Homo sapiens: one gene and its partners. The protein of the gene in region 4 purifies or fractionates together with the protein of the main gene of each other region. This does not show direct contact. Each region holds a gene or a part of one and is shown on either strand. Other genes may lie near its edges.

The links.
Region 1: the proteins of PIGF (region 4) and PRKAR2B purify together in Homo sapiens (affinity purification with mass spectrometry; one large-scale study listed by BioGRID and IntAct). This does not show direct contact.
Region 2: the proteins of PIGF (region 4) and WDR89 purify together in Homo sapiens (affinity purification with mass spectrometry; one large-scale study listed by BioGRID and IntAct). This does not show direct contact.
Region 3: the proteins of PIGF (region 4) and PACSIN2 purify together in Homo sapiens (affinity purification with mass spectrometry; one large-scale study listed by BioGRID and IntAct). This does not show direct contact.
Region 5: the proteins of PIGF (region 4) and SUPT6H purify together in Homo sapiens (affinity purification with mass spectrometry; one large-scale study listed by BioGRID and IntAct). This does not show direct contact.
Region 6: the proteins of PIGF (region 4) and PDE4DIP purify together in Homo sapiens (co-immunoprecipitation; one large-scale study listed by IntAct). This does not show direct contact.
Region 7: the proteins of PIGF (region 4) and PARN purify together in Homo sapiens (affinity purification with mass spectrometry; one large-scale study listed by BioGRID and IntAct). This does not show direct contact.

Annotation. Positions count from the first base shown.
Region 1 is NC_000007.14:107,159,526-107,162,860, reverse strand, and holds the end of PRKAR2B (cAMP-dependent protein kinase type II-beta regulatory subunit), read right to left. Parts: coding exon 3,279-3,335; 3' UTR 1,050-3,278; downstream 1-1,049. UniProt on the Homo sapiens protein: Regulatory subunit of the cAMP-dependent protein kinases involved in cAMP signaling in cells. Type II regulatory chains mediate membrane association by binding to anchoring proteins, including the MAP2 kinase.
Region 2 is NC_000014.9:63,600,141-63,604,368, reverse strand, and holds part of WDR89 (WD repeat-containing protein 89), read left to right. Parts: intron 1-182; exon of another isoform or gene 183-370; coding exon of another isoform or gene 371-453; intron 454-2,061; exon of another isoform or gene 2,062-2,191; intron 2,192-2,434; exon of another isoform or gene 2,435-2,898; intron 2,899-4,228.
Region 3 is NC_000022.11:42,871,570-42,875,797, reverse strand, and holds part of PACSIN2 (protein kinase C and casein kinase substrate in neurons protein 2), read left to right. Parts: intron 1-267; exon of another isoform or gene 268-3,306; intron 3,307-3,338; exon of another isoform or gene 3,339-3,813; intron 3,814-4,228.
Region 4 is NC_000002.12:46,610,103-46,614,330, reverse strand, and holds part of PIGF (GPI ethanolamine phosphate transferase, stabilizing subunit), read left to right. Parts: intron 1-545; coding exon 546-637; intron 638-1,986; coding exon 1,987-2,103; intron 2,104-4,228.
Region 5 is NC_000017.11:28,671,910-28,676,137, forward strand, and holds part of SUPT6H (transcription elongation factor SPT6), read left to right. Parts: intron 1-847; exon of another isoform or gene 848-949; intron 950-1,461; 5' UTR 1,462-1,492; coding exon 1,493-1,601; exon of another isoform or gene 1,602-1,709; intron 1,710-2,373; coding exon 2,374-2,532; intron 2,533-2,627; coding exon 2,628-2,704; intron 2,705-3,060; coding exon 3,061-3,253; intron 3,254-3,491; coding exon 3,492-3,576; intron 3,577-4,228.
Region 6 is NC_000001.11:149,000,886-149,005,113, forward strand, and holds part of PDE4DIP (myomegalin), read left to right. Parts: intron 1-705; coding exon 706-1,141; intron 1,142-1,964; coding exon 1,965-2,157; intron 2,158-2,725; coding exon 2,726-2,845; intron 2,846-4,023; coding exon 4,024-4,228. UniProt on the Homo sapiens protein: Functions as an anchor sequestering components of the cAMP-dependent pathway to Golgi and/or centrosomes.
Region 7 is NC_000016.10:14,434,784-14,438,571, reverse strand, and holds the end of PARN (poly(A)-specific ribonuclease PARN), read left to right. Parts: intron 1-1,799; coding exon 1,800-1,855; 3' UTR 1,856-2,871; downstream 2,872-3,788. UniProt on the Homo sapiens protein: 3'-exoribonuclease that has a preference for poly(A) tails of mRNAs, thereby efficiently degrading poly(A) tails.

The DNA of each region.
Region 1 (3,335 bases), on a different chromosome or scaffold from region 4:
CAACTCATTCCAATTCTTCATTTTTGTCAAAATTCTTTCTGATACTTGGCATCAGGCTATACCAAACACTAAATTTTAGAAGCCAGCATTCCTTAAAAACTATATTTCTCTTAGGTAGTAAATTTTTTTTTTTTTAAGAATCCCGTCCAGCAATTTAACAAAGCTCTGCCTTAATCCAGATGTATGACTCACCTCTCTAGGCCTACACAGTATTAATTTTCCTTAAGAATGGCAAAGGTCATCTCATCCTTTATAACGTTTTTTGAGAGGAAAAATTCTATCAGTATCTTTAAAGATGCTTTGGGAAGGGAAAGAACACAGCGTTTTTAAATTTTACATTTCAATAAAATCCGAAGTCTCTTGCTTCATGCCGTTTCACTTGAAGAATTTTTAAGCTTGTTTGTTTTATGGACGGAGTCTCGCTCTGTCACCAGGCTGGAGTGCAGTGGCACAATCTCGGCTCACTCCAACTTCTGCCTCCCAGGTTCAAGCGATTCTCCTGCGTCAGCCTCCTGAGTAGCTGGGACTACAGGCACATGCCACCACGCCCAGCTAATTTTTGTATTTTTAATAGAGACGGGGTTTCACTATATTGGCCAGGATGGTCTCGATCTCTTGACCTCGTGATCCTCCTGCCTCAGCCTCCCAAAGTCCTGGGATTACAGGCATGAGCCATGGTGCCGGCCTTTTAAAGCATTTTAAATGGCATTTAGCCAGAGTTTATAATACTAATCCTAATGGTAACACATATACATTCACCTAAGTTGTGTCACAGGTAACGTGTATGTTAAAATATCTGCACTAAGCCCTAGTACATATGGATATGTAGAAAACAATACACACACACATACATACACACACACACACACACACACACACACCTTTATTTAAAATAAGGGAAAGCACCGTCACTCTTGGGGAAAAAGTCCTCACCCCTTTCCTTAGCCACGCATGATACACGAGAGGCTCTGTCCTTGAATGAATGGTCAACAGAGAATTCTCACATAGTAAGGAGTGTTGATTAATAATTAAATAATGACATCCACAAGTCAAACTTGAGCTGTTTTAATCAGATAATTTTACACATAAATTCCTAGTTAGCCAGATTGATTTGGTTATTCTAAATGGCCAAATAAATCTGCAACACACCACAATTATTTCTCCCACACATGATGAATAGCTAATAATTTTAAAAACCTATTGCCATACAGAACCATACTTTCTTACTATGTTATGCCCTGGGGGTTCGCTTCCACATGCCACATTGCTATCATGCTTTTCAATGAATTATGCATTATGCACGTCAGAAAACTTTAAAGAAACAAGCAAAAAAGTATGAAAAACAATAATTCATGTATTTTATTATAAAAGTGTGCTTTATTGTAAGGAAAATTTAAATATAACCAACAATACTGAAAATAATGTACGTGGCATTTATAGCCTTGGTCAAAGTTCTTTATTAAACAGGCGTTTGCTGTTCCATGAATAGTTAACAATTAGTTTATGCAACAAAATAGATAACTTGAAAAAGTGAGTAAGAATACAGAATGATGAACCAGGAATCTGGAGTTCTTTTGTGTTTTTTCTTGTTTAACAGACATGGCTTTTAAAATAAAATCTGAAATATAAAACAAGTCATCTTCATGTAGAGAGCTCTCTTTTCCTACAAGAAGGTTTTGCAAAAATGTTAAACAGTGTTCTAAAAATGTGGCTGAAGTTATACTTTACATACTTTAACTTCTTATATATACATTATCCAATTAACATTCTAACCACATTTTCATATACAAGTGGGACCATAAACATTCTCTAGTAAGACTACACTAGCACAGAGTAATTTTACCCATGTATATATATTCATTTGAAACCTGTTTCCCAAAATGAAATCACTCATTTAAAAGCAAACAACTGGTTAGAATTAATGTCTCTAGACACTGGGTCATGGGGCCTAGAAATCATGTAAGAGTATATTGCTTTGGTTGAATATAATTAAATTCATCTTATGTGGCAGCATACTGAGCATATCAATGAACAATGAAAATCTAGTACATCTGAGTTCTTTCTGCACTAATTTCAACTATGAGTCTACATTAAAGCAATGGCAAGGCCTAATGGTATATATGGTAAGGTCAGAAATTCATTTTGTCTTTATATAGGGTTATGCTCATAAAAATTTGTTTCTATTCCTCTAGAGGATGTTTTTAAGAATTAAAAAAACCAAACAAACCCATATTGGCTGCTGATCAATGAGATTGTGGGTTGGCAACCATCCTAAGAAAGAACGGAAACCCAAGGGAACAGATGTCTACATAGGACTGTATTATGCAGGCCTAGTGAAGAACAAAGAAATAAACTGTGGGCATGCTGATAAGGATCCCACATTATTTTTGGGATAGGAGAGATTTTTTAGGTGTAAAATCTTAAAGAATACAAAAAATGTCGGATCTTAAGTTTAAATCACTTTTTAAAAAAACAAAACTTTGTGACATTAAATGTCAAGATCAAATTTTTAAAGACATAGAATACAGAGAATTGCAAAATAAAAAAAAGCAGATATATGCTTGATGAGGGAAAAATGCATTAATGATCTCTCATCTAAAACACTGTTTTCCTTATTATCATAATGACTAAATTGCCTGTCCATAAAACCACTGGAATATGTATGTTACTGACATTATGCCAACAAAGTCAAAATGTACTTTATTGCAAAAATATAAAAAGTTTTAAAACTGCATATGATATTTTATACCATTTCACCAATAGGCCAAGGCCAGCACATAACTTATCAAGCTAGAAAACTTTAAAACAAAAATGATTAAAATTTTACTGTGTTTAATGAGTTATAAAAAAAAGTGATGCCATGCTGTGTAGCATGTTTAATTGCCAAGTGCCCTCTTACATGGGGATAGTCACTAATATGATTATCAGTCTGAATAAGTAAAACACATATAGCCTATGATAACATCCTTTAATTATCTTCTTAAACACAGATACTTTCTATATATTACAATCATTTTAATAAACCTTTCAGTCATAATTTTGTGGAGTACAAAGTCATTTTATCAGTATGTTGATTTTTTTATGAACTACTCTTTAGAAAGTGATGTTAAAGCCTATTGACTATTAAATCACTACTGTTTATTGATACGTTGTAAATGTAAAAAAAGGAAAAAACCTGAAATCACAGAAAATGCTTGGCATCTACACAAACACATTCTCAGTGGACTAACCACTACTGTGTAATTTTGTCACTACAGGTCTTGCTCCATACTTTTGCTTCATGCAGTGGGTTCAACAATATCCATGTTCGTTCCAAACAGGGCAACTAACTGTTC
Region 2 (4,228 bases), on a different chromosome or scaffold from region 4:
TGATCTTGGCTCATTGCAACCTCCACCTCCCGAGCTCAAGCAGTCCTCCCAAGTAGCTGGGACTACAGGCGTGCACTACCACACCTGCCTCATTTTTGCATTTTTTTGTAGAGGTGGGGTTTAGCCTTGTTGCCCAGGCTGGTCTCGAACCCCTGGGCTCAAGCAATCTGCCTGCCCTGGCTTCTCAACATGCTGGGATTACAAGAATGAGCCACTGCACCTGGCCATCATTTTTAATTTTTAAATTAGTGAAACAGGGTAAGGATGTGATAGGAAATGACAGGGGCTTTTTCACGTTGATTGGCAGTGGAGAGACTCTCTCTGGGCAGGTGACATATGCTGAGACCTGAATAACAGGAAGGAGTCACTCATGCAGACATGCAGGGAAAGAATACTCCAGGCAAACAGCTGTTGCTGCAGTCCTGAGGCAGGAGCAAGCCTGACGTGTTCAAGGTAAGGCTATTTTGTCTGGCGGGAAAACCACAGAACAGTTGTACTGTGCTAGCTACCTCAGCAGCTGTGGAGGTGACTACCCCAGCGTTACTGGAAAATGGTCATTTCATGTCTGAATACTTAAGTTGAAGGAAGAACACCATTTTTAGAGCTACCTAATGCTTCCACGGAGTTTCTCATGTGGGGCTTACAGACTGATGGGGTCCTATCAGAAGGCTTCAGAAGCTGGCTTAAAGGGTCTTAATGGCCAAGTCCAGACACTTTGAGCATCAAAAAGCAACAAAGCGATAGATTATGATACACAGTTTTTAAGAATTGTGATTTCCTAGTCAAAGAAGCAGAGAAAGGAAAAAAGCTCTTGTTTATAGAAGAATGCCTGCTAAGGTAGAAAGAATGATAGAAAAGGACTGTTTTACAGATTCTAGCATAATCATTGATTTAGGCAAGGACAATTAATAGATCCTGAACTCTTTGGATGAAAGTTGTTGAAGAATAGGATATTCAAAAAATTCCATGACATGAAAAACAGAAGGTTGGAGAGATGCTGTTATAGTGAAGTATTTAGGAATGGAGTGATACTTTGTCTGCAGCTAACTCTCATCAAAAGGTTCATTTTTAAAAAGCAGTGGGGTGTGTGTGTGTGTGTGTGTGTAGAGAGAGAAAGCAAATGTGGCAAGAAGTTAACAGTGAACCTAGAAGGTGAACTGTGTGTGTGCATTAGAACTTTTTGTGTGTGCGCACTTATAAATGTTGAAAATTAATGAGCTGTGATGCCATCTCCAAAGGAAAAATAAGTAAAAATAAATGTTGAAAATTAAAAGTTGGAGGGAATGCTTATTTCTATTTTAAACCCAAATCCAGGCTGGGCGTGGTGGCTCACGCCTGTAATCCCAGCACTTTGGGAGGCCGAGGCAGGCGGATCACGAGGTCAGGAGGTCGAGACCATCCTGGCTAACACGGTGAAACCCCATCTCCACTAAAAATACAAAAAAATAAAATAAATTTTAAAAAACCCAAATCCAACTTACTAATATTTTTTGCTGTTTGATGTAATTGTGCTATTTGGAGCTCTCTGATAGATCCAAATTCTCCCTTATATGGTGATACTGGTAATTTTTATATTACATCTTTTTTTTTTTTTTTGAGATGGAGTTTCACTCTTGTTGCCCAGGATGGAGTGCAACGGCGCGATCTCGGCTCACCGCAACCTCCTCCTCCTGGGTTCAAGCGATTCTCCTGCCTCAGCCTCCCGAGTAGCTGGGATTACAGGCATGTGCCACCACGCCTGGCTAATTTTGTATTTTTAATAGAGACGGGGTTTTTCCATGTCGGTCAGACTGGTCTCAATCTCCCGACCTCAGGTGATCTGCCCGCCTTGGCCTCCCAAAGTGCTGGGATTACAGGCGTGAGCTACCATGTCCAGCCATCTTTTTTTTTTTTTTTTTTTTTTTTTGAGTAGGAATCTCACTCTGTTGTTCAGGCTGGAGTGCAGTGGCAAGACCTTGGCTCATTGCAACCTCTACCTCAAGCAGTTCTCCTGCCTCAGCCTCCCGAGTAGCTGGATTACAGGTGTGCACCACAACACCAAACTAATTTTTGTATTTTTAGTAGAGACGGGGTTTTACCATGTTGACCAGACTGGTCTCGAACTCCTGACCTCAGTGATCGCTGCCTCGGCCTCCAGAAGTGTTGGGATTACAGGCATGAGCCACCATGCCTGACCTATTACATCTATTGTGTAGGTACTATGATATGCCATACATTGTGCAGAACACATGGCATGCATTAGTTAATCCTCCTAACAGTTCTTGAGTTAGTACTCATTTCCCCTTTTAAAGATGAAAAGACAGATGCTTAAGAAGATATCACTAAAGCAACAGAAAAAACATTTCATCTTAAGAATGAAAATGAATTTGTTAGACAGGCTAGAAAGAATATTCACTGATGAGAAAGCACAATAGAAGAATTTATTTTATTTTTTTCATTAGTTATTTAGTTTATTATAAAAGAGAAATATGGAAATTATTTACATGATGAAAGATTTCAGAACTTCGGTGGAATGGGCAGCTTCATGTTGATGCCATTTCAATAGTGACTTATTTCAGTTTACGTACTTTCCAAGAACGTCACCATCTCTAAATAGGAAATAATCCTTGTCATCTAGAACTACTTTGGTGCCTCCATGTTATGGGAGAAGAACTTTATCTCCAACTTTCACACGAACTGGTTGAATCTCTCCACCCTTTCCTTTAGAACCCGATCCAACAGCGACTACTGTTGCTTGCAATACTTTTCCTTGAGATTTTTCTGGAAGCATAATGCCTCCTTTGGTTACAGTTTCAACAGCACTCCTTTCAACCAATACTCGGTCAAAGAGTGGAAGAAACTTAAACGCTTGTCCTGCCATGACTCCCTCCACCTCAGACTCGTACTCTGCTCTAGTGTCAAGAATTTATTATAGTGTTACTAGGCATGCATGTTTTTCTGGCCTTGAACTTGTCCTACATACAGCCCACCCTGGAGAGGCAATCTAGTATGGTGGTTTAGAGCACAGTCCGTGAAGCCTGAAGCCAGAATGCCTAGGTTCAAATCCCAGTTCTACTATCACAAGCTGCTACTGCCTTAGAAGGACTTCTCCAGGATTCTATACTGGGAACCTCTGTTGTATTCGTTTCCTATTGCTGCTATAACAAATTACTGCAAACTTAGTTGTTTGAAATAACATTAAGTTTATTATCTTAACGGTTCTGGAGGTCTGAAGTCCAAAATGGATGTCACTGGGCTAAAATTAAGATGTCAACAGGGCTGCATTTCCATTTGGAGGCTTAGAGGACAATCTTTTCTTGCTTTTTAGTTTCTAGAGGCCACTCTCAGCCTCTGTCTTCAAAACCAGCAACATTGTATCTCTCTGTGTCTTTGCCTTTCTTCTATGGGAACCTCTTCCTCTGACTCTTCTGCCTCCCTCTTCCACTTTTGAAGACAGTTGTTACCATATTGGGCCACGGTGATAACAGATAATCTAGGATAATCTCCCTATTTTAAGGTTAGCCTTATATTAGGCTGATAAGCAACCTTAATTCCATGTACAACTTCAGTTTTCCTTTGTAACCTAACATATTCACAGATTCCAGGGATTAAGGCATGAATATTTTTGGGAAACCTTTTTTTTTTTTTTTTTTTTTTTTTTTTTTTTTTTTTGCCTACATATCTATGTTTAAATTCTAAAGTTGTGTAAGGCAGCTGGGGCCAGGAGAAGATTATTCCAAAGTGGAGATCCTTGCCAATCCTGAAGATGACTTGAGTAGAACCAGTAATTGGGTTTGAGCTAAAAGGAACTACTGGGTGGCGTATGTACATGTTTTTTATTCTCTTACTAGCATAAAATATATATAGTAAATTCAGCATTTTTTTTTTCTTTTTTGAGGCAGGATCTCACTTTATTCCCCAGGCTGTATGACAGTGACATGATCATGGATCACTGTAGTCTCAACTTCTGGTCTCAAGCAGTCCTCCTACCTCAGCCTCCTGAGTAGCTAGGACTACAGGCATAGGCCACCATGCCCTGCTAATTTATTTTTTGAAGAGACGGCGGGGGGGTCTCCCCATGTTGCTCAGGCTGGTCTCTAATGCCTGGCCTCAAGCAGTCCTCCTACCTCAGCCTCCCAAAGTGCTGAGATTACAGGTGTGAGCCACCACTCCTGGTAGTGAATTCAGTATTAAAGAGTGATTGAATTAGAAGGCAACTGAGTTTTAGTTACATCATAGGAAGGAAATG
Region 3 (4,228 bases), on a different chromosome or scaffold from region 4:
TTGGGAGGCCAAGGCAGGCAGATCACTTGAGGTCAGGAGTTCGAGCCCAGCCTAACCAACATGGTGAAACCCTGTCTCTACTAAAAATACAAAAATGAGCCAGGCGTGTGGCGGGGCATCTATAATCACAGTTACTCAGGAGGCTGCGGCAGGAGAATCACTTGAACCTGGGAGGTGGAGGTTGCAGTGAGCCAAGGTCACACCACTGTACCCCAGGCTGGGTGACAGAGCAAGACTTTGTGTCAAAAAAAAAAAATTAGCTGGGCTAATTTTAGTGGCACATGCCTGTAGTCCCAGCTCTCTGGGAGGCTGAGGTGGGAGGATCACCTGAGCCCAGTAGATTGAGGTTGCAATGAATCATGATTGTACCACTATACTCCAACCTGGACAACAGAGCGAGACCCTGTCGCAAACAAACAAACAAATAAATAACCTGGGCAACAGAGCGAGATCCTGTCTCAAATAAATAAACAAACAAAAGTAGCAGATTAGCTGGGCGTGGTGTTGCATACCTATAGTCCCAGCTGCTTGGGAGGCTGAGGCAGAGGATCACTTAAACCCAAGAGGATACAGTGAGCCATGTTCATACCACGTACTCTAGCCTAGAAGAGAGAGCAAGACCCCATCTCTTAAAAAAAAAAAAAAGTAGGCTGGGCATGGTGGCTCACGCCTGTAATCCCAGCACTTTGGGAGGCCGAGGCACACAGATCACGAGGTCAGGAGATTGAGACCATCCTGGCTAAGAGTGTGAAACCCCGTCTCTACTAAAAATACAAAAAATTAGCCGGGCGTGGTGGCAGCCGCCTGTAGTCCCAGCTACTCGGGAGGCTGACGCAGGAAAATTGCTTGAACCCGGGAGGCGGAGCTTGCAGTGAGCCGAGATTGCGCCACTGCACTCCAGCCTGGGCGACAGAGCAAAACTCTTTTTCAAAAAAAAAAAAAAAAGCGGATGCCCAATGCCAAGACTCAGAAATAGTGAGGTGCTGCCAAGCCAGTGCCTGGACTCCTCACCTTGCTGGGCCAAGGCTGTGAATTGCAGGGCACTGGCTAGTCACACAGAAGGGCATCTGGAGAAGCTGTTGGCCAGGACCACCAGGTTCCCCCATATGTAGTCTGGGAGCTGCTAGCCCCGCAGGGCCATGAGAGAAGCCTTTCTCTAGGGGTCCCCAACTGCCAGAGAAGCCCTCAGGAGAGCCACAGCTTTGCCCAGACCCCAGAGTAGCACTTGGCATGCCCCTGGGCCAGGTGGGGCCTTGTCTCAGGCAGCAACTTGTGTGTGTGCACACCTACCTGCCCACACCTACCATGCACACACCAACCCACACACATATCTGTGTTGCTAGGAGCAGAAACCATAGTTTTATAAAACAGCCTGGATCCTGATTACATGTGCTCTGCCTGTGAAGACTTTCTGTGCAATGTCTTTTTCTTCTTTGAATGGTCTTCAATGATAATCTTTTTTTTTTTTTTTTTTAATAGAGACACGGTCTCACTCTGTTAGCCAAGCTGGGTTACAGTGGTGCGATCATAGCTCACAGCAGCTGCAGCCTTGATCTCCTGGGCTCAAGCAGTCCTCCCACCTCAGCCTCCTACGTAGCTGGGACCACAGATGTGTGCTACCACCCCACCCACTATAGGAATCTTTTTTAATGCATTTGCAGTTTACCAAAATGGCTTTTCACATCTTCAATTTGAAAAGTGTTATCTTGTCCGGGCACGATGGCTCACACCTGTAATCCCAGCACTTTGCGAGGCCAAGGCCGAAGGATCACTTGAGGTCAGGAGTTTGAGACCAGCCTGGCCAACATGGTGAAACCCTGCCTCTATTAAAAAATAAAAAAATTATTCAGGCATGGTGGCACACACCTGTAATCCCAGCTACTGGGGAGGCCAAGAGAATCACTTGAACCTGGGAGGTGGAGGTTGCAGTGAGCTGAGATCATACCACTGCACTCCAGCCTGGGTGATGGAGTGACACTCTGTCTCAAAAAAAAAAAAAGGAAAGAAAATTGCTATCTTAGCACCTAAGGAAGCTGGAGTGGCCTAGGGCCAAAGTGGACCCACAGCAACCCAGATTCTTCCCTCTCTTGCCCTCTTTGTGAAGCTCCCCCAGAAGCAGCATCTACCACTCCAAGAGGGAAGCTGGGCCAGAACTCAACCCACACAGGCTGAAGTGTGCCCTTGCCCCTAGGCTACACTTGTGGGAAAGGCTGCCTTACCACCACCACCCCAACCCCTGACTCAGCAGGGAAGCCAGGGCCTGGGGGCTGTGCCCAATGGCCTAGCTTCTAACCAGTCTTCAGCCTCCTCCCCTCAGCACCCAGAGTGCCAGCCTGCTGTCCCCAGACACTCTTCCCCTGGGCTGGTTATCAGCTGCCTCTGCCCAGTTTGAGAAGTTGGGTTTTTTTGTTTTTTTGGATTTTTTTTTAATGTGCCTTTAAGCCATCTTCATCCAGTTTCTGATATCTTTGGTTGGGGTTGTTACCCCCGACTTTGTTGGTTTATTTGTTTATAATTTCTAACTCCTTTTCAATCCTGCCTATTGGGTTTGACAGTAATTTTGTAGATTTAAAATGTTTCTTCCAGATCCAAGTAAATTGTCAAAAGCAAACTGATTGAAATGAACCTTCTAATCACCAGTTCACATTTGCACAATGTGAAAGCTTTCCTGTCCGTTCTATTTTCTGTGTTATCCTGCTTTTTAACAATGCAAAATTAGCTCCCAGCCAGTGTGGCTTGACTTACGTCTCTTGCGGTGTTCTGGCTGTTTGCCACATGGTAGTGTGGGGTTACAGGCCTCATCCTAGCCTCGGTAGCCTGGATCCAGGCCTGTGAGAGCACAGCAACCAATGAAGGCAGGACAAAAGAAACGCCAGGGGCCCGAGGCACGAAGCGGTGGAAAGAGATGGTGGTTCATCGTGGCTGCTGCCCTGTGGCCCCTGCATCTGCTCCTGATGCCTCTGGGTTAGATCTGCAGGCGCACTGGTCTGGCAGAAGCGGCACGACAGTGGGAGGCTGAGCCAGTGCTTACGCATGTCCCACCCTCCCAGGGTTCTTTAGTGTCTTAACACTTAATCTTCACAGTACCCCCAGTCCACAGATGAGGGCCACAGGCCCAGGGAGTGGACGCAGTTGGTCCAGGTCTCCCAGCCAGTGAGTGATGGCTGTGGGATTTGAGCCCAGGCAGTCCGGGGAGCACTGGAAGCCCCAGGTATTAGCTCCGCAGGCATGTTGACCAGCATTGCTGCCATACAAAATCCAAAGCATCAGGGAAATGCTAAACCAGGGGGAAAACTGCATCTAATTCTGAAAAATGGACCAAAAAATGCCAAAGAGAGTTACAAAACTTCAAACTTAGCAATAAAGGCAAAACAGCACTGGGACTATTTCTTTCCCACCAATTGCTTGCTCCTGACGAGGTCCGAGCCAGCAGGCCCAACTGGCCTTCCCTGCAGTGAGTTACCAACCAGAAGCACACAGGCCCCTGCCCACCCCTGGGCTCTGAGCTGCTCTGCTTCCCTAACCTGGCAAATGCCAGACCTGGGGCCCTACCCTAGTGCCACCTCCCCCTCACCACCCTAGTCTGCCTCCTTGAGACCAGGATCCATCAGTTCCTCTCATCTCTGTATCTCCTCTTCTACCCAAGGCCTGGCCAGAAGTAGGAGGTCCTTCAGGTTGGAACAACCAAAGATAAATGGAACCACGTTAATACATTAGAGCCACAGGGAGATTCCAGAACAGCGCCAGGGGCTCCTTCTCAGGGTCTCAGGAAGGGTTGACACATGGCACCGTGCACAAGTCATCAGCCAGGTGCTGGGGATAAAATGACAGGTATGACTGTCAGACATGGTCCCTTCCCCTCGCAGCCTGGAAGTTGCAGAGGAGAGGGATTAGCAAAGGCAGAGAGACCCCAGAGACAGCTGCTGGGAGCAAGGCGGCCGGGGCCCTGGGGAGGGGACAGAAGAGGCCCAACGTGAGGGAGGGGCACAACCGAGGGACGATTCCTGCCACCTGGCCAGGGTGGTGAGGAAGGCACAGCCCTATGGAGCTGGATGCCGCAGTCTCAGTGGGAGCCACTGTGGCAGCTGAGAGCAGCTTGTTCCAAATTACTGTGTGAGACTGTCATCTCTAGGTCTGTCAGAGGCCCATGACCAAAGAGGCAACTTAAAATGCATGCATTTAGTAGAGAAATGACCAGGCCCTCGGCCTGCCCGCCACAGAATGCCTG
Region 4 (4,228 bases):
ATTCTTAAGCTCCAAATCAAGAAGATCTCATGTTTCTTTGTAGATGTTCAGGTCTTTTTTCATACGGGTTGTGTAATATGAGTGTGATTTCAAGAATTATTTAGTATTTTGCTTTTTCAGTGCAGTTTTCCCAGGAATTTTGTTTTAAAATGAAAAAAATTGTTATTTTCTGCAGATATTTCCTCTATCATCGCATAATACTGTATTTTTTGTATCCTAGCTCTCTGATGTCAATCAGTATTTGATAAATATTGATTAATGACATAGCTCTATATTACCATGGAAACAGAACCTCTTTTCGACTCATGTAGGTCGGATGGGTAGAATATGGGCGGAAGGTGGTATTTGCCTTTTAGGCTTTTTTAGTCTGTATCGAAGGCTGTGTATGTGACGGTACAGGACATGTGATCTGATTTGAGTATACCCAAGAACATTTGAACTGTTTTACACATTATGGGAACAAGTTGTGTTTGTAGATGAAATGGAAGAATTTATTGTCCTTTAAGCATTATCTTGAATCTTCAGGTTATTCATTTCTCTTTTAGGTAACTGGATTTTTGAAATGCTGTATCTACTTTCTTATGTCTTGTTTCTCCTTTCATGTAATTTTTGTTCTGTATGGAGCACCACTGATAGAGTAAGTTTGAAATTTTTACCCTAAATTTATATTTTAAAACATTCATTTACCAAACTGTGTGCTAATTCTTAGCAACTAGAGAAAAACCATGATGTGCATCATTAATAGATCAAGTAAGGACACCAACATCATTAGCAGTGTTATTCTTTTTTAAAAAAAACAGCAGAATAACTTAATTTATTAAATACTCTTGTTACCTAGCCTTCTAGTATCCAATTGCATGTTGAGAGAAGGGAGAGTAGAGAAACTATACTATACCAATAAGTATTTGGCCCTTAGAACCTCTGAAAGAACTTACTATGATTATATGTGTAAGTTATAATTAGCATATCAGTTCTTATAAATGTGATTCTAAAGTACTTGAATGGAGTTTTTCTTAACAAAAGTCAATAGATTCCTGTATTCAAATACTGAATAAGCTGGTGTTTATAGTTTAAAGGTAAAATTTAACACTTTTTCTGAACTGACAAATTTCAAATTCTTAGAAACAAAATTCATGAATGTTTCTTACATAATGTTTATCATAGTTTGAGAAGCTTCAGTTTAGCAGTGATTAATGATCATGGTGAAATGAGTGATGAGATACATATACATATACACACACATATATTTGTGTTGCTAAGTATACCATTTTATATATATATATATATTTATACATAGTTTTACGTACACACACTAAACTGACAGGTTATTCTTTTCTAGATGGGAGAGAACAAGACCTTTGTAATGGAAAATGGTGGTTCCTGTCTAATCCATTTTAAAGCAGAATGAATGTGTCTGGCACAGTGGTTCTCAAAATGTGGTTTTCAAACCAGCAGCATCAGCATTTTATCAAAATGCAAATACTCAAGCTTCAGTCAGAAACTCTAGGGGTAGAGCCCCCACCAATCTTTAGTTTATCCAGCTCTCCAGGTGTTTCCAATATATGTTAACCACTAGTTGTAGAGAACCACTACAACTAGTATTCAATAGTGGTTCAATAGTGGTTCAATAGTGTATTGAACCACTAGTTGTAGAGAAAGTTCCAGAGAGACTATTGAGCAGAAAGCTAACTATCTAGAAATGGATTTTGTTTGTTTGTTTGTGTTTGCAGTGAAAGTCTCAGCATGGATCCTAGGGTCTTTAACACTTCTGAAATCTATCATTAAAGCGAAATACTTGCTAGATTGTTTTTTAAAGCTACATGTTGGTGGTAAAATTATTTATAGTCATCATTTTGGTGGCATTCATGTTACCTTTCAAAGTAAAGCATAGGAAGATATTTCACATTTTATTTATATAATAAAGATTATGTATGTGTATGTTTACCTTTAACACTTTTTTAAAAAGTAATCTTTTTTTTTTTCTAGGTTGGCATTGGAAACATTTTTATTTGCAGTTATTTTGTCTACTTTTACTACTGTGCCTTGCTTATGTTTGTTAGGACCAAACCTCAAAGCATGGCTAAGAGTGTTCAGTAGAAATGGGTAAGTTTTAATTTTATATTATAATGATATTGAAATTAAAAAATAATTAATGAAGTATTTTTCTATTCATGGCAGTTTGCTGATTATTCTGAGTGCTTCTCATTGCTGATGGTGCTCAGAGATGCCTTAAGGGGTCACTGCAATTAGGGACTGGGGACAGGGCAGGCAGAACTACAAGCCCCTCCCTCCACGTTAGCAAGATCAGCTCTCCTTTTTTCTGTATGGTAGAATTCCACCTAGCCTTTTGTTTGTTTAAAAAAAAAAAGAAGAAGAAGAAATAAAAAAAAATTCTACTATTAAAAGAAAGCCTTGAAAACCATGGTTCTGGGATAATTTGGCACTGTGATAAGACTGCTGTAAATAAAATTGCTTACATACATTTTATAAGGTAGAAGTGGGGTCCACAATCTAAAAATGTGTTGTGTAACAATGATAATTTCTTGTTTAGCCTTTTTTGTGATAAGATACCAGAGCTCAAGTTTTATGAGATTTCATTTCCTTGGTGGCCGTATATATTTTCAGCATGGCTAAGTTAAAATTTTAGCTTCTTGAAAGTCATTTAAATGATATGCACCAGAAATAGTGGAGATCTAGCTAAGAAAGCCAGAAGGTTATTTGATTCTTTCCTATTTATCACCCAGCAGCAAGAACTTCTTGAGCACTTAGTCTGTGCTCTGTGTTATTGTGTTATGCTAAGCTGTGTGTGGTTTCTGAAGTATTAGGAGGAATCTTTTTTTTTTTTTTTGAGATGGAACCTCGCTCTGTCGCCAGGCTGGAGTGCAGTGGCATGATTTCGGCTCACTGCAACCTCCATCTCCCAGGTTCAAGTGATTCTCCTGCCTCAGCCTCCCAAGTAGCTGGGACTACAGGTGCATGCCACCATGCCCAGCTAATTTTTCTATTTTTAGTAGAGACAGGGTTTCACCACACTGGCCAGGATGGTCTTGATCTCGACCTCATGATCCGCCCGCCTCGCCTCCCAAAGTGCTGGGATTACAGGTATGAGCCACCACACCCGGCCTTATTAGGAGGATTCTTTTGCTGAGGAGCTTATCTGTTCAAGGGACAAAAATGAGCAAATAACATCAGATTACAAATGTGTAAATCCAGCAATAAGTGGTGTAGGAACTCAAAGGGACAGAGCATCAGTAAAGAATGGAGGGGGAGATGGGAATGATCTATGATGGACTTAAGTCAAGAGTATATGATTTGGTGAGACCAAGAAGGAAGAGAAAGGCACCTCGTGCAAGGAGAATGGATAAAAGCATTGAAACTGAAATGAACAGGGTATTTTTGTGTGATTTGAAAGGTAACAGCCCAATGAGAGCAAAAGATGCATGCTGAGTAGCTTGGCTTCATAAATTACCGACTTATTCCCTTTGAAATCAGTACTGTTTGGGACGAGTGTGGTGGCTCACGCCTGTAATCTCAGCACTTTGGGAGGCCAAGGCGGGTGGATCACCTGAGGTCAGGAGTTCAAGACCAGCCTGGCCAACATGGTGAAACCCCATCTCTACTAAAAATACAAAAATTAGCTGGGTGTGGTGGCGGGTGCCTGTAGTCCCAGCTACTTGGGAAGCTGAGGCAGGAGAATTGCTTGAACCCAGGAGGCGGAGGTTGCAGTGAGCCGAGATCGCACCACTGGACTCCAGCCTGGGCAACATAGTGAGAATCTGTCTCAAAAAAAAAAAAAAAAAAAAAGGAATCAGTACTGTTTTCCCTTGGAACCGTCTTCTAATATTCATAAAGTCTCTAGAAAACAGAAGTGTAACAACTGAAAGCATTTTCTACATTATTACCATAATATCCCAAATGGTATTAATTGCTTTTAGCCTTTTAGTTTGAAATTTTTAAATAGTGAAATTGGATTGAAATCTTATTACTTTGGATTAGTGATTTCTCCAGTTTTCAAGTCTATGTCTAATAATGGGTGTATTTGGGGGAAATACTGTCATGTGATTTTACAATTAGTTCTGCTATAATGTGGCCTGTGTGTTCCTAAAAATCACTACGCTGTACAAAATGGGCAGTAAAAACCACAGAGCTTATGGGAAAGATGGGGTTAGGTCATAACACTAAAACAATTCATCAGTGACATGTAGAGAGAAGATGGGAACTTAATAAA
Region 5 (4,228 bases), on a different chromosome or scaffold from region 4:
TAGGGTATGAAACCAGGATTTGATTTCTACTCTTGAGCCCAGCAGTCTTTCCATTTAACCATGTTGCATTTATTTTGTAGGACATGGAAGCCTTTCAAGATTTTTTGCCTGCAAGGGGAGTAAATGATAAAACTAGGCCCTTTTTGGACCCAAATGCTCCCAACCAGTACTCACACAAATTGGCTCAAGTTCATGAAGTATTTGTGTGTTTAATCTATTGAAAAGAGATTTTGCTTTTGACTTTGCTAATAAGTATGAATAGTGTATGTAAACATATGAAAGCACCTTTTATAAAGTTGGCACTTATTGTTTCCAAGCCTCCTAGAAGCAGATCACATAATCTCACTCTACCACCATATCCCCACTTAATTGTCCCTACATTAGTTTCTTTCCTCATTTGCCCATTCCTGTCTTCAAATGGTAAGTGAGGTAAAACTTTGGGGAAGAGAGATGATACATATACAAGTCTGGTATAATTGCCTTCTTTTTCTTTTTTTCTTTTCTTTTTTTTTCTTTTTTTTCGAGGCAGATTTTGCTCTTGTTGCCCAGGCTGGAGTGCAGTGGTGCAATCTCAGCTCACTGCAACCTCCACCTCCCGGGGTCAAACCATTCTCCTGCCTAAGCCTCCAGAGTAACTGGGATTACAGGCACCTGCCACCATACCCGGATAATTTTTGTATTTTTAGTAGAGACGGGGTTTCACCATGTTGGCCAAGCTGGTCTCGAACTCCTGACCTCAGGTGATCCACCTGCCTTGGCCTCCCTAAGTGCTGGGGTTATAGGAGTGAGCTACCACGCCTGGCCTAATGGCTTTTTTTTTTAAGACAGAGTCTCACTCTCTCGCCAGGCTGGAATGCAGTGGCGCAATCTGCAACCTCCACCTTCCGGATTCAAGAGATTCTCCTGCCTCAGCCTCCTGAGTAGCCTGGCTTTTGCCTTCTTTTTGAAAGTACGTATGAGGCCGGGTGCGGTGGCTCACGCCTGTAATCCCAGCACCTTGGGAGGCCAAGGTGGGCAGATCACCTGAGTTCAGAAGTTCAAGACCAGCCTGGCCAACGTGTTGAAACCACATCTCTTCTAAGAGTACAAAAATTAGCCAGGCATGGTGGCGCATGCCTATAATCCCAGCTACTCGGGAGGCTAAGGCAGGAGAATCACTTGAACCCAGGAGGTGGAGGTTGCAGTGAACGGAGATTGCGCCACTGTACTCCAGCCTGGGTGAGAGAGTGAGACGCCACCTCAAAAAAAAAAAAAAAAAGTACATATGAGAGAAGCAATGCTGGGAGGAATGGATAATGGAAGAGTTGGAACCATCAGATTCTTCTTTTCTTCTCCCCAAGTGGGAATGTTGAGTGGGCAGAGCAGTGGCAGGTTGCTAAAAGGCTGTTTGTGGGAAGGTTTAAGAGCCCTCTGTACAATCATGTGTCCGTTTTTTTATCCTTCACTCTTTTCTTTCCCTAGTTATCTTCAGGCAGAGTGAGAAGCTGCAGCAATGTCTGATTTTGTGGAAAGCGAGGCTGAGGAGTCAGAGGAAGAATACAATGATGAAGGCGAGGTGGTACCCCGAGTCACCAAGAAATTTGTGGAAGAGGAGGATGATGGTGAGGAGGCCCCAGCCTCAAGCTTCTCCCCACTATTGCTAAGCTTTGGATAGTTGGATTCTTGCTGATGAAAAGCTCAGGCTCAGCACAGAAGTTATCACACATGAGGTACCAGCTTGAGAACTTTCAGTCATTCTTAGCAGATACTAACTGAGCATCTGTCTGTATGCCAGGCACTAGGCCTGGAACTAGAAATATAAAACAATAAATATCCAGCTATTGTGGAGTTTACTTTAGTTGGGGGGTGGTTGATAATAAATCAGTAGATAAGTCTGTATATAATACTTTCTGCTTTTAGACCTAGCATTGTTGATATTTATTCACCTCGTTTCCTATTTCTCTGGCCAAGCCCAATCTTTAGAATTGTCAACAGAGTAGAACCACGAAATGACTTCAAAGGGGTAAAGGGACGTACAAGTTTTATCAAAGGAATTATGGCAAAAAAAAGGAATATAGCTGCTGAGTTTACAAACTGAGTAAAACAAAGTTATTGGTGGCTATAATAATCTAGTAATGATTTTGAGAAGCCAAAGTGACGGGGAAGATCATCCTGCCCAAAGACAGATGGTGAATGTAGGGGAAGAAAACATTCTTTCCAGATGCTGCTACTCTAAGTCAATGGCTATGTTTTGCATCTTTACATGAGGCAGAAGAGTTAACATGGCACCCAGGTCATTAGGTGCAGAGCAAATGGATAATCACATTAATCAAGTGACCCTGAACCTCTAGCCTGTTTTTCAGTCTCCATGCCTCAAACATGCATGTCTTCCAGATGAGGAGGAGGAGGAGGAGAACCTAGATGATCAGGATGAGCAAGGCAACTTGAAAGGCTTTATCAATGACGATGATGATGAAGATGAAGGGGAGGAGGATGAGGGCAGTGACTCTGGTGATTCAGAAGATGATGTTGGCCACAAGAAGAGAAAACGCAGTGAGTAGTCTGTCGTTGGCTCAAGTGAGGCTTGGGTGGAGGTTGCAGTGGAAAAGGGCAACCCCATCACCATGGGCAACACTTTGTTTCTTCAGCCTCTTTTGATGACCGCCTGGAGGATGATGATTTTGACCTCATTGAGGAGAATTTGGGTGTCAAAGTCAAAAGAGGAGTAAGTGTCATTCTTTGTCTTTTGTCCCTGGGGGTAAAGGAAAAAGCCCTGGAAATTTCAATGTCTGTGGGTGAGGAGGCACACGCAGGACAGTTTGGAGAACATTAGAGCACGGTGTTCGGTATCATTGTACTACGGAGCCTAGATTTGCATCCCAGATCTGGGTGCCTGTTAGAGAAAGTCTTGTCCAAGTTTCAAGGATGGGCTTTGAGGCTACAAGAGCATCACTCGGCATGTTCTTTCCCATCTCTCTTGGTCAGAGTAATTGTGGTGGGAAGAAGGGAGTGAGACTGGAGATTTGGTATCCGTATGCCAGACTCCTCAGATCCTGATAAGGCAGGTTTTCCCACCCCTAGCAAAAGTACCGGCGTGTCAAAAAAATGTCAGATGACGAGGACGATGACGAGGAGGAATATGGCAAGGAGGAACATGAAAAAGAAGCTATTGCGGAAGAAATCTTCCAGGATGGGGAAGGGGAAGAAGGGCAGGAGGCCATGGAGGCCCCCATGGCTCCTCCAGAGGAGGAGGAAGAAGATGATGAGGAGTCAGGTATGTTATATTGGGCAGGGAAGCCAGTGTTTGGATGGGTATTGGGATTTCCTGGCCCATGGGAACAGGATGGAAACCATTCTTTAGCTACATCCCCCAGCATTTGACACAAAGAAGTTCCTTTTCAGGAGCTTCCCTTCTCTGTTGCTCACTGGCCACTCACATAGTAGGAACCAAAGCAATTTAGTCCTGGCTCAGCCCCTGACTCTGAGCCCCAACCCATCCTTTTCCTACCCAGATATTGACGACTTCATTGTGGATGATGATGGACAGCCTCTGAAAAAACCTAAGTGGCGGAAAAAGCTTCCTGGATACACAGACGCGTGAGTGGGGTCTGGTACAAGGTGGGGATAAAGTGATTGAGTGGGCCCAGTCAGGAAGGAGGAGATCAGAGGCCTTTGCCAAAAATGGGGCATTCCCAGCTTGCAGCCATTTTGCTTCCCTGCCTCAAATAACCTCTACCAGGCAGTGATTTCAGACTGCTCCCGGAAGCCCTGGGAGCTGTCTCTGCACTCTAGGACTACTGTGGGATTGGAGTAGAGTCCCACATGGGCAAGGCTCCAGCATTCCTCTTCCGCCTACAGCTCCATGTTTATTCAATTATATATATATTGACATTCTTAATATATTTTTGTTGGAAGACAAATGCCCGCATCACAATTTACAAATTTGAAAGCTTTTGCCCTGAGGGAATACTGTAATGCCTTAGCAGAAGATGGGTCCACTGAGCAAGACATAGACCCGTCTGCTCTGTTGCTATTTGATTACTGTCACTCGAAGGTGCCAAAGATGAGCTTTTTAATCTTCCATATACAATAGTTTGCCCAGAAATATCCGCCAATGAAGCCTTTCGTCCACAGTGAATATGGTTATTTTGTTTACCTTCCTCCTAACCCTCTCAGTTCCCTTGGGACAAGTAAAGGATCTATGCAAGGGCTGCATTTCTCTCCTCTCACCTGAACCTGAGCCACCTGC
Region 6 (4,228 bases), on a different chromosome or scaffold from region 4:
TAGTATGAGTTTGTTGTTGTGGAAAGAATTTATCTGGAATGTCTTGGTGCAAATTAGCTGTTTTGGTCAATTTTATTTCTTCAACAAATATGAATGATTTATGTGGCAGGCACTTGTGTAGGTACTGGGGATATGGGATGAATAGGACAGACACAGTCCTGCTCTCAAGAAGGTTATCTCTATCACGTGAGCCAGACATAAAGCAAACAATTATCTAAGTACATTTTGATTATATTAATAGTTCTGATTAGTGTTATTTATTTATTCTGTGTTCCTAAGTCCCAATGGTTTGAAACTGACTGATGATAAATAATAGAACTGTAAAATTTATAACAATAAATTTGTTACAGAAAAGGTCTTATTTTTTAACAGTGTAAGTACTCTGGTTTATTCCAGAGGCTACTAAAAATTAGAACATATGAGGCTATGGGGCACAAGTAAAGAAAACTAGCCTGCATGTCTTGAGTCCAAGGTTTCTAGTGATGGTGCTGCCACCAAGAAGCTGTGGAAGTTTGGGCAAGTCTCTTACTTTTCCTGAGCCTTGGCTTTCTTGTATATAAAATTAGGGGGCTGTGGTAGGTCTCAGGTTGCTTCATGCTCTGGGGTAAGTCTGAGTTAATTGCGGGCTGAGATGTTGGTAAGAGGTAGTATTAGGAACTGTTGTGAGGACCAGACCTAGCCCTCAATTAAGTGTGTTTCCTGCAGGAACACCATGCTGAGCCTTTGCCTTGAGAATGCGGAGCTGAAAGAGCAGATGGGAGAAGCAATGTCTGATGGATGGGAGATCGAGGAAGACAAGGAGAAGGGCGAGGTGATGGTTGAGACTGTGGTAACCAAAGAGGGTCTGAGTGAGAGTAGCCTTCAGGCTGAGTTCAGAAAGCTCCAGGGAAAACTGAAGAATGCCCACAATATCATCAACCTCCTCAAAGAACAACTTGTGCTGAGTAGCAAGGAAGGGAATAGTAAACTTACTCCAGAGCTCCTTGTGCATCTGACCAGCACCATTGAAAGAATAAACACAGAACTGGTTGGTTCCCCTGGGAAGCACCAACACCAAGAGGAGGGGAATGTGACTGTGAGGCCTTTCCCCAGACCCCAGAGCCTTGACCTTGGGGCTACCTTCACAGTGGATGCCCACCAAGTAAGTGTGGGCTTAGATTGAGTGAAAAACAATTGGAGAAGGGCTTGAGATGACAGTGTTTACCTTAAAACATTCTCCCATATGAATCAGGAGGTACCAAGAGAAGGGTCTCTTTGTACCACAAACAATAATAGTAATATTCTGCCTACATTCAGCCTTTAGAAAGGCTTTTATAACATAAATATTTCTTGAGTACTTAATTTTTCAGATAACACACTAGGCATTGGCATGGGGCAATAAAACCAATGGCTGCCCCTGAGATACTTAATATTGTCGGGAAAGATGGCACACAAACAGGTAATTTTAACAGGATGTGGTAACTGCTGTAACATAGGGATGCATCAGGTTATGAGGCAGCCCAGACAAGTGGTATGTAATGACATCCCTTATCACTGCCATTTTTTTGTCACAGCTCATCACAGGTGTCTGTTCCTGGGCTTCAGATGGGTTACTGGGATCCTCTTTAGGGAAGGAGCCATGCTGAAGATTCAGTGAAATGGAGAATACAGGGATTCTGAGAGAATCAATGGGACAGAATGTGAGGGGAGATGAGTGGTCTCTTTTTGACCACTGAGAAAACATTTCCTGAGAGCTCCTCTGTAGACTTGATTGGTGCTGTGCTGTGTGCTGTGGATACAGATATGAAGAAAACATTATCCCAGCGCTCCAGGAGCTCCATCTGGAAAGCAAGTCACTGCCAAATGGCATGAGAAGTGCTGTGACAGACTTGAGTAAAGTCCACAGGGTTCAGAAGGGGCGGTGGTCGTCACTGCATGGGGGTGACCTCAGACTGTCCTGATCCCTGTATTGGCCCCTTTCACAGTTGGATAACCAGTCCCAGCCTCGTGACCCTGGGCCTCAGTCAGCGTTTAGCCTACCAGGGTCCACCCAGCACCTGCGCTCCCAGCTGTCACAATGCAAACAACGCTATCAAGATCTCCAGGAGAAGCTGCTGCTATCAGAAGCCACTGTCTTTGCTCAGGCTAACGAGCTGGAGAAATACAGAGTTATGCTTAGTAAGTAACTATGACTTACTAGTAAAGAAAACTAGCCTATATGTCTTATAAGTTCTGTATGTTCTATACCGACATAACGTGGTTATTGAGCACACGAAGTGTGGCTAGTGCAACTTGGACATTTGGTTTTATTTAATTTTAGTTGATGTAGTATAAAGTGGCCATATGTGGCTGCTAACTACCTTATTGGACAGTACAGGTCTAGGGTCTTGGGACTCTAAATTAGTTCAGCTCCATTCAACATTTATTGAACCCCTGCGGATAAAGCACTTGCCAGCTTCAATGGGGCTGCTAGAGATGATAGTGTACAATCCCTGACTTACAGATATCTGGTCCCAACTAAAGCCTGGGTTATCTGAAGGGGAGATAATGGCAAATGCAGGCTCCTCCTTTGGAAAGAAATTCTGCTTCCTGGAGCTGGTGATCTCTTCTCCCACCAGTTCAGAGAAGCTTCTCTCCCACTGTGGATCTGCCTTCCGTGCCTCAAAAGGTTAGGGTATGTGCCATTGAGGCTGAGGGCATATGTGGGAAATTCAGACATTCTGTAACACCTGCTTCTCTTCCCAAGCAGGTGAATCCTTGGTGAAGCAGGACAGCAAGCAGATCCAGGTGGACCTCCAGGACCTGGGCTATGAGACTTGTGGCCGAAGCGAGAATGAGGCTGAACGGGAGGAAACCACCAGTCCTGGTAAGAGCACAGGGTGTGGGGCTCACCCCTCCCTGGAGTCAGCTGTCACATTTGGATGCTGTTGGCCAATTCCACACCTGACAAGTATTGGGGAAGAGGAGGACAGGAGGTTAATAGGAGAAATCTTACCCAAAATGAGGCTGAGTATAAGTTTGAATTTCTACAATTAGTTTTTGGCATACTGCTAATAACAATAATAATATAAAATTCTATCCAACTGATTATTATAGAAATACTAAGGCCTACTTAGAGACCAGATAAGGTTTTAGAAACATGCAAGCCATAAATTAAAAATAATTTTGTTTTGCATTATAAAAAGACTACAACTATAGGGCCACCCACCACATTGAAAACCAGAAGAGAAGAAAAACACAATCTCTCTCATTCTTGAGGCAGTGTAGTGTGGCAGTTAAGAGACAAGATCCTGGGGCCAGACTGGTTGGTTCAAATCCCAGTTTGAAAACTTTCCTATGTCCCAGTTTCTTCATGTGTTAAAATAGTAATAAAGGAACTACCTACCCCATCAGGTACTAAGGTCAATTAAATGAGTAAATTCTTATAAAATGCTTTAGAACAGTGCCTGGCATCTGGTAAAATGCCATGGATTAGTTCTCATTCTGACTACCACTGCCCTAATACACTGATGTTAACATGCTGATATATTTATTTGAAGCCTTATTTTCCTATGCCTATTTTTCATACAGTTGTAACCCAATAAACTTTTAAATTATAGTAAAATTTAAAGAGCATTAAACTTTCAGCATGCAGTAATAGCTTGTCCTACATTCTTGTGGCCATCCTAAATAGATAAGGCCATGTTAATGTCTTAAGAAACACCAGTGTGTGTGGAATGAACACAGGACATTGGAGGATTTGAATTCTGGCTCTGCCATGTGCTAGTTTGAGTGATCTAGAACAAGCTAGTTTACCACCTCTCTTTAAGTTTTGGTTTCCCAGTCAGTAAAATAGAAAGTGATGAAACCTAACTTGTAGGTATAAGGAAGATAAGAAATATTGTATTTGAATGCCTAGTACAGTGTCAGGGTTGAATAAAGTACTACTTCAACTTTTTCCCTAGTAATTATTGTCCTCATGACCAAACCTGCCTCCTCTCAAAGGCAGTGGCCACAACAGCACATCCAACTTTTATTTAGGAAGACATCTTTGTCTTTTTTCAGAGTGTGAGGAGCACAACAGCCTCAAGGAAATGGTCCTGATGGAGGGGCTGTGCTCTGAGCAGGGACGCCGGGGCTCAACACTGGCTAGTTCCTCTGAGAGGAAGCCCTTGGAGAACCAGCTAGGGAAGCAGGAAGAGTTCCGGGTATATGGAAAGTCAGAAAACATCTTGGTCCTACGAAAGGACATCAAAGATCTGAAGGCCCA
Region 7 (3,788 bases), on a different chromosome or scaffold from region 4:
GTAAAATGGTCCAACTTGACTTGCCTTACTCCAGAACTTTTTGCTTATTCCATTATTTCCTGTTAGCTCTTCATGGAACCACTTCCTGTGTGTCTGGTGGCTCACTGTGCACTCACACACCCCCCCCCCCAACTAATGGCAGGTGCAGATTGGCAGGTGCAGATTACAAGTATTGCAGTGCAGTTGCTTTTAGCAATTTATCTTCCTTTTTCCTCTGAGCTGGATTTAATTTACTTCAGTTCCCCACATTTGGCATTGTAGCTTTTACCTTTAGAATGGCTAATTGGCTACTGCAATATTTCTTTCATATGTGAATTATAAAAGTGCCCTTAATGGATGTTTCTTTTCATACAGTTAGGTGTTTATTGTATCATTGTGGGACTGGGAAGGCCAGGCTAGCTGCAGGTTATCACAGGCCCCTTGCAGTACTTCACTGGACCCCATGAGTCCTTTTCAGTGGATCATCTCCTGCCCATCTTCACTTCTCCAGAGTGGTCTCGCCATCTTTACTGGGTGTCCCAGAACGTGCCTGTTCAGAGCGATGAGACCCAGGGCAGAAAGAGTCCGGTTACCCTTTCCCGGTCTCCTCACCCTAACTCCCTGGATCTTATCACAGTAAATGATCAGAAGTAGAAATTCTCATGTTAGCTGAAATTCTCTTCATGTTTTTTCTTGTGTTCAGACCTCGTTATTTTTAAGCATCCCTGTTACTGATGATAACCACTGTGAACTCAGTGATATGATTCCCTAGTTTGTAAGACACTGCACCCCCTCTGTATTTAAAAGTTATTTCCCATTGGAGGTATCATCAAAGACTTCTCTCCCTTTCTAAAATCTTGGTGTTAGCAGCTAGAAGAGAGACTGCCAGTTTCCCCCGTCAGCCCTACTTTATGACTTAATGCATGGCACCACTTGTGCAGCTGACGCCTGGTCGGGCCACACTTTCCATTATGAACATGCTCTTTCCTGACTTCCCTCACATTCGTTGAAGTCCAGTCCCAGCTCAGTTGCTGGCCGCAGCTGCTCGTATTGTAGAAAGTGGCATGAATAAAAAAGAAGGGCTTCTGACATTGGGGTGAAACTTTGTCACTGAAGAGATCTTTTCAATCCAAGAAGAGGACCCCAGCCAGCTTCACCGAAGCTGGAAAAAGCTGCAACCTTCTTTTGCCCCTGTTGAGATATTGGAACCCCCACTGGTTGGCTTCCCTCTGCCCTTCAGCTGCCCACCTGAGATTTCTCACCTAGGCAGAGCCACAGCACAGCACAGAGAAACTCAGTTTCCAGGGACTTTGGCAGGGATGTTGGTGCTGTGGGAGGATTCAGACCCCATCTCAGCCACTTGCTAGCTCTGTACATCTGGTCATATTACCCCACTTCTCTCAATCTGTTCTTGCATCTGTAAAATGGGGTAGTGTTACCACCTTGGTGGGCTTTTAATGAAGATTATATGAATTAAATGCCCGCTGTATTGCCAACAAAGAATCCAGCATGGTGTTCAGTGAGGAATACTGTGCATGGCTACAGTTTAACTCCTGTGAAATAAATAGATAGATGCTGGAGGCAGGGAGGTGCTTCCTCCGCGCCCCCATGATGTTTCTGTGGTTTCACTTTCCCATGCTGGGCACTGCCCTCCCTAGACAAGACCTGTCTGTGGACTCTTTCCAGCGCAGCTGTTTAGCCAGACGCTGGCCCCGTCTGCAGCCGTCACAGGCCCTCTGTCTGTCTGCTGGTCATGTCATGCTCTCCTCAAGGTGCCGTCCTGGTCCTGCTGTTCATATTGTTTTGTTCTTTCCCACCAGGAAGCATCTCGAAGAACAGCCCTGCCACACTCTTTGAAGTTCCTGACACATGGTAACCAAGACCTGAGGGCAGCAAACCGCTGGTGCTGTCGCTGTGAGCAAGAGCCGGCTGGCACATTTGGAAGCCGCACTGTATTTAACTTAATCAAATGTGGTATGGGAGGGGTTGGAAACCAAGTTGTCTCCTGGGGGGGAGAAAACAGGTTTTATTTTTGTGGCTGTGGTTTTTTCCCCTTTTTAATCTAACTGCCTGTTGACATTGACACTCATCACGGTTGTAGGCTGTCATGAATGTGTACGTGCTTAACCAGTGAATTCCGTGTTGCTCTTGTGAGGCCTTTCCTGTCATGACCCAGTGTGCTTAAGAACCTGCCTGATGGGGAGTGTCGGCTGTGAAATCTGCAAAAAGAGCTGACATTCCAGCTGCTGTGATCATGAATTTGGGGGTGTACTGTCCTGCCTGTGCATCTTCTCGCACTGAGATTTTGAGGCAGTTGCAGCCCTCGGTTAGTCTCCCAGTGGAAAAATCGGTTGTGCCTCCCTGCTTCCCACCATAGCTGCCTGAAAACATGACGCTCTCAAGCTTGTCCTTCCTTCAGGAAGATGTCCACTCATGCCCACCCATGAGAGGGCTTGCCGTATGCCCTGGCCTTTGGGCATATTTATGTAGAGTTCCTTTCTCCTAAGACGTGAGTTTCTCATGGGGGATGTACGAGTAAAAAGGTTAACTTCTGTTCTTATGCGTGGCGCTGTGTTCACTTTCCAGAGTCTCTGTTCGTTTGTTTGGATGGCGGTCTCGGGGTACGGCAGCGTGTGTGCGTACGTGTCTGTGTGTGTGTGTGTGTGTGTGTGTGTGTGTGTGTGTGTGTGTGTGTGAAATCGTGCAAATCTACAACATGTCCCAGCCCATTCTCCGTTGAAACAGATCACAGCAACGACAAACGCTCATGGCGCTGCTTTGCTCCACCCGCTTCAGATAGATCATTGTTAGATATTTCACATTTTTGTATGGTGGAAATAAAAATGAAAAATGTATTTCCAAAAGATGAAAATTAAAAACATTTTCATAGGACTCTGGTTTTCTCCTCTCTTTTTTTTTAATAAGTGAATGATGTTTTCGCTCTCTAGTAATACACAGATAAATTTCACACTCCTAAAAAAATCTGCTAAGCCACTAAGGCTGATGTTCATGGATTTTTTTCTTCTTCTTTTTACCCCTAACTGCTATACCTGCCACGATGGATCGGCTCCTCAGTACCGAGCTGAGCCCTGGTGGTAAGTGGCCTTGTAGGAGGGTGGGAGGAATGAGGACCCTTAGCACTCACACTGGAATCCCAGGGTGTTATGCAGATTCCGATTTGTAAGACAGTTTCCCTAATCAAGAGCCTCTGTCACACCTGTAAGCTGAGACGGGAGGATCACTTGAGCCCAGGAGTTCAAGACCAGCATGGACAACGCAGTGAGACCCTGTCTTTAAAAAAAAAAAAAAAAAAATTTTTTTTTTTTTTTTTTTTAAAGCATGTTAACTTCTCTTCCCCCTTCCTGCTCCTCTCCCTTCCTACAAAACTCCCTGGAGTTTTGTAGCCACAAAGTTAGAAACCCAGGCTTGGCAGGAAGGACTGCCCACCCCTCCTAGAGTAGTCAGCACACACGGCTCAGTGGAAAGTGTGAAGGTAGGATGGAGACAGACAGTAAAGGAGGGTGTATGCAGGAATGTGTAGAGAGGGCTGCCGGACTGCCGAGTCAGCAGCACTCACGGAGAAATGAGGAGAGTCTGACCCTTGATTTTGAAAGAAAAAGAGGGGGCCCAGCGCAGTGTCTCACGTCTATAATCCCAACACATCGGGAGGCCAAGACAGGAGGATCACATGAACCCAGGAGTTCGAGACCAGCCTGGGCAACACAGGGAGACCCCATCTCTACAAAAAATACAAAAATTAGCCAGGCGTGGTGGCGCATGCCTGTGGTCCCAGCTACCCGGGACCGCAG